2 separate regions of the Homo sapiens genome follow, and region 1 is linked to region 2. Evidence: fine-mapped expression QTL. Tissue or cell type: thyroid. Region 2 holds a variant in brackets; the other region holds the start of a gene. All regions are shown on one strand. Distances are between the middles of the regions.

The links. PIP is the estimated chance that this variant, and not a neighbour inherited with it, causes the effect.
Region 1: it holds the start of ADAM12, and the variant in region 2 is fine-mapped to the expression of ADAM12 in thyroid (GTEx, PIP above 0.99).

The regions. Positions count from the first base shown.
Region 1 is chr10:126,387,121-126,389,808 of GRCh38, forward strand. ADAM12 (ADAM metallopeptidase domain 12) reads right to left here and starts at 1,357. Exons shown (of 23, transcript NM_001288973.2): 1 at 938-1,357. The coding sequence starts at 1,025.
Region 2 is chr10:126,749,333-126,752,020 of GRCh38, forward strand. No RefSeq gene overlaps it. Among named protein-coding and RNA genes, the nearest start is that of C10orf90, 80 kb to the left of the region's middle. The variant ACCGCATCTATGCCAACAT/A (reference allele first, on the strand shown) is at 1,245.

The DNA.
Region 1 (2,688 bases), 360 kb before region 2:
CTTGAGAGCTTGCGGCCAAGGGAAGTCGTTCATCGGTGGACCGACAGCGCCCCGGGCGGCAGAAAGAAGGCGGCGGCGGCGGAGACCCGGGGAAGTTGCCGGATTTTTAAAAAGGCACCTGCTGGGTGAGTCCTCACTGTGCAAACGGGAGCCACAGGTGCCCGATTTTAAGGGGCTACAACTCGGGAAAACCTAAGTCTGTAAAACTAAGTACGTTAAACTAAGTAAGTTCTCGCTGTGCACCAAGTTGATGGGGGCGATTATTTACGGCGGAGAAACTGAGTGGAGGAAGGAGGGAGAATTCCGCTAAAGTTTGCCTGCGACTGACAGCTAGGGAGTGACCTGGAAGCCAGGAAGAGGGGCAGAGAGGAAACTAAAGAAGTAGGTAAGAGAGTCAGTTTATGAAAATAGAGCCTGCTGTGGAGAGCAGCAGGCACACCTGCGGAGGAGGGGGCTGCCTCACCTGCGGGGCCGCTGCGCGCCCCCCTAAGTGTGTTAGCGGGGGAGGCGGGGCTGGAAAGGAAACCTGGTGAAGGGCTGGCCCGGAGCCTGGGGTGGGGATATTCACTGCGGGATAGGGCCAGCAAGAGGACCCGACACGCATCGTCCCGAGTGACACGTGTAAATGTCAAGATACAGAGACATCTGCAAATGTCACCCAAGAGGGTGAGGACGGGGGAGCGGTCCCGAGGCTGTGCCCTCCGGGGCAGGTACTGGCTCCTGTGGGGCTGCGGGCCAAGTGTCGCCCTTCCCCAAGGAATTGGCACCTGGGGGGGGGGGGTCGGTCTCGCCGCGCTGGAAGCGCAAGCCCCGGGGCTCCGGAGATGCGCCGGGGCGCGTCGCCCCTCGGGGCAGCCCTGGACCTCGGCGCGCCCAGGCGCAGCGTGCGGTGCCCTCGGCGGGGCGGGCAGCGAGCCGCCCTAGTTCGGCGACTTACCTCGGGCCTCGCAGGGCGCGAGCAGAGCACCGGCCAGGGCGAGCAGGAGGGCGCGGGCGGGGGACACGGGCAGCGGGCGCGCTGCCATCGTCGCCGGCCTTCAGTGCAGCAGCTCTCGGGCCCGGCGGCGAGCGCTGCACCATCCCACGCGGGCGCCGAGCCGGGGCCGGGCGTCGCGACCGGAGGGATTTCCTGCCTCGGCGAGTCAGCTCCGGAGCCCTCGCGCAGCGCCCGCGCCGCCGCTGAGCTCTTCTAGCCTTTCATTTTTAAAAAAGTTTCCCCCCGTGTGTGTGCGTGCGTGCGCGCGCGCGCGCCGTTCTGGCACAAGCCAGCCTTGACCGTTGCAATAAATGAGCAAACTGTCCGAGTTGGCCCGGGGACTAGGAAGAGCGTTAGTGAGAGAAGGCAGGCCTGTGAAATGGATCCACGGCCAGCAGTCACCGTTCTTATTACCGCGGAACAAATTATTGTCTCCCCCGCACCCCCGCCAGTTGGCGGCGTCCCGCGGGTCCTAGAGACCGCTCGGGTCCCCCCGCCAGGGTCCCGCCCCGAGCCGCGGCTCGCTCACCCCCGAGGGTGGGCGGCTCAGACGTGGCTCAGTGGCGTCCGGGCGCCCGGAGCGCACACGTCCCCGCCCCAGGATGATGTGGCCGCAGGGCCCGGGGCGCCCGGCTGCCAAGCGCACATGCGGCGGCACGGTCCAGCTTTTCAGGCTGAAGCTGGAAACGATGACTCTGCTACTCGCTCCCCGGCTCTCTGGGAACCCTCGGAGTGCGGGTCAGGTCTCCACCGCGGCCCACAGCCCGGCGCGCGACCCCGCCCGGCCCTAAGCGCCCAAAGGGGCATCTCTCGCCCGAGAAACAAGCTTGGACTCGCAGGCACAAGACACCTGGGCGTTACTTTTGATCAACAGTGTTAGGTTTTACGTTGATAGATTGGCTCACGTTTCCATTCCATGACCTGGACCCAGAAAAGGGTGTACAGTGACGTTCCCCAAACTTTCCTGATTGTAAGAAGCACCTGGGTTGGCTTGTTAAAAAGATTCCCGGGCGCCCTCCTACGCTTTCAGAATGAGACTCTCCAGGCTGTGAGGCCAGGGGAGCCCAGGGTGTTTGGAGAAACACCAATGAAAGAATGGTGCGCCTTGCCTTCTCATCCTTGTTCCGGGCTGACCCCACCTCTTCAGCCTCGCTCGGCCCTCAGGGAGACCATGAAAAGCAGCAGCGAGGGGGCCCGCACAGACAGAAATGGCTGGAGCTATGGAGGATGGCTGATGCCCACCCTGCGGGTTACCATGATTCCCAACCTTGGGGACTTATTAGAATAGTAAGAGTTAAAGACATTGCCAGCCCCAGACACCAGTTAACTCAGTTTCCCACAATGCGTGGAGCTCAATAGTTTTCAAAGCCTCAGGTGATTCTACTGTGCTGCTCAGACCTAGGACCACCTGCAGAAATTCCATCCTGGTCCTGCGACCTCGCACCGATTCCTGACGGAGCACCCACTCCTAGGAGGCGGTTATCCAGCATTTGAGGAAGCTGCCTTCCATACCATCTCTTCCCACTGCAGAGGAGTTTTCTCAGGAGTTCCCTCCCACGGCAGGTTTTGCAGTGTTCCCAAAACCCAGGTCGATCCTCCTAACAAGGTGCAGGACTTTCTTTTTAAAAAACCTTAGTGGGAAGCACAGGCTCTCCAGCCCCCTTCCCAATGCTGCCATATCTCAGTACCAGATCTGGAAACCAGGCCTGGTT
Region 2 (2,688 bases):
GTGGCTTGGGGAGTGGGGAGGCCCACAAGACTGTATGTGCTGGGTGAACCTCACAGGGCCTGAGGAAGAGAGTCTGAAATTGACAGTGAAGCAATCAACCTTAAAAAGTATGGCAGAACAGGCCAGTAGGTGCAGGTCTAGCTCCTGTGGGTTGTGCTGAAAAATGGCAACCAACCATCCAGGCAAGAGGCTCTACAGAGTTCTGATAACCTCCTCTCCAGACCTGCTGAAACAATATGGAGAAATGCCCAGCCAAGAAGAAAGACAGCACTGCCTGGTGGAAGAACATGGGCTTGGAAGTCAAAGAAGCTGGATGTGGGGCCCAGCTCAGCCACTTGCTGGTTGAGTGACAGAGGACAAGTAATTTACATTCTACAGTCTGCAAATCCGTTTCTTCATCTGTGAAATGGGAGGGAAGAAATCCTACCTCAAGAGGTCATTATCCAAACAAACAAGACAATCTGCGTAATGGCTCATGGCAGGGTCTAGCAGAGAACAGGTGGTTGTCAAGTGGCAAGTGTGGCTGAGAGTGGGCTGCAATTCAGTGCCCTGTGTTCTATTCCTTTTTTGTAGAATTTATCATTATTATTATTGTTTTATTTTTCCATAAGTTATTGGGGCACAGGTGGTATACTTGGTTACATGAGTAAGTTCTTTAGTGGTGATTTGTGAGATTTTGGTCCACCTATCACCCAAGTAGTACACACTGCACCACATTTGTATTATTTTATCCCTCACCCCCCCTCACTCTTCCCCCCAGGTCCCCAAAGTCCATTGTATCATTCCTATACCTTTGCGTCCTCATAGCTCAGCTCCCACATATCAGTGAGAACATACAATGTTTGGTTCTCCATTCCTGAATTACTTCACTTAGAATAATAGTCTCCAATCTCATCCAGGTCACTGCAAATGCTGTTAATTTGTCCCTTTTTATGGCTGAGTAGTATTCCATCATATATATATATATATATACACACACACATACATACATACAGTTTCTTTATCCATTTGTTGATTGATGGGCATTTCGGTTGGTTCCACGATTTTACAATTGTGAATTGGGCTGCTATAAACATGTGTGTGCAAGTATCTTTTTCGTATAATGACTTCTTTTCTTCTGGGTAGATACCCAGTAGTGGCATTCCTGGATTAAAGGGTAGCTCTTTAAGGAATCTCCACACTGTTTTCCATAGTAGCTGTACTAGTTTACATTCCCACCGGCAGTGTAGAAGTGTTCCCTGATC[ACCGCATCTATGCCAACAT/A]CCGCTGTTTTTTTTATTTTTTGATTATGGCCATTCTTGCAGGAGTAAGGCAGTGTCGCCTGATGGTTTTGATTTGCATTTCCCTGATCATTAGTGATGTTGGGCATTTTTTCATGTTTGTTGGCCATTTCTACATCTTCTTTTGAGAATTGTCTCTTCATGTCCTTAGTCCACTTTTGGATGGGATTTTTTTTTTCTTACTGAGAAGATTTTCCCCCACTCTGTGGGTTGTCTGTTTACTCTGCTGACTGTTCCTTTTGCTGTGCAAAAGTTCTTTAGTTTAATTAGGTCCCAGCTATTTATCTTTGTTTTTATTGCTTTTGCTTTTGGGTTCCTGATCATGAAATCCTTGCTTAAGCCAATGTCTAGAAGGGTTTTTCCAATGTTATCTTTAGAATTTTTACAGTTTCAGGTCATAGGTTTAAGTCCTTAATCCATCTTGAGTTGATTTTTGTATGAGGATCCAGTTTCATTCTCCTACATGTGGCTAGCCAATTATCCCAGCACCATTTGTTGAAAATGGTGTCCTTTCCCCACTTTATGTTTTTGTTTGCTTTGTCAAAGATCAGTTGGCTATAAGTATTTGAGCTGATTTTGGGGTTCCCTATTCTGTTCCATTGGTCTATGTGCCTATTTTTATACAAGTACCATGCTGTTTTGGTGACTATGACCTTATAGTACAGTTTGAAATCAGGTAGTGTGATGCCTCCAGATTTGTTCTTTTTGCTTAGTCTTGCTTTGGCTATGCAGGCTCTTTTTTGGTTCCACATGAATTTAGAATTGTTTTTTCTAATTCTGTGAAGATGATGGTGATATTTTGATGGGGATTGTACTGAATTTGTAGATTGCTTTTGGCAGTATGGTATTTTCACAATATTGATTCTACCCATCCATGAGCGTGGGATGTGTTTCCATTTGTTTGTGTCATCTATGATTTTTTTCATCAGTGTTTTGCAGTTTTCTTTGTAGAGGTCTTTTGACTACTTCGTTAGGTATATTACTAAGTATTTATTTATTTATTTATTTATTTATTTTTGCAGCTATTGTAAAAGGGGTTGTGTTCTTGATTAGATTCTCCACTTGGTCACTGTTGGTGTACAGAAGAGCTATTAATTTGTGTATGTTAATCTTATATCCAGAAACTTTGCTGAATTCTTTTATCAGTTCTAGGAGCTTTCTGGAGGAGTCTTTAGGGTTTTCAAGGTAAATGATCATATCATCAGCAGAGAGTGACAGTTTGACTTCCTCTTTACCTATTTGGATGCCCTTTATTTATTTCTCTTGTCTGACTGCTCTGGCTATGACTTCCAGTACTGTGTTAAAGAGGAGTGGTGAGAGTGGTCATCCTTGTCTTGTTCCAGTTTTCAAAGAAAATGCTTTCAACTCTTCCCCGTTCAGTATTATGTTGGCTGTGGGTTTGTCACAG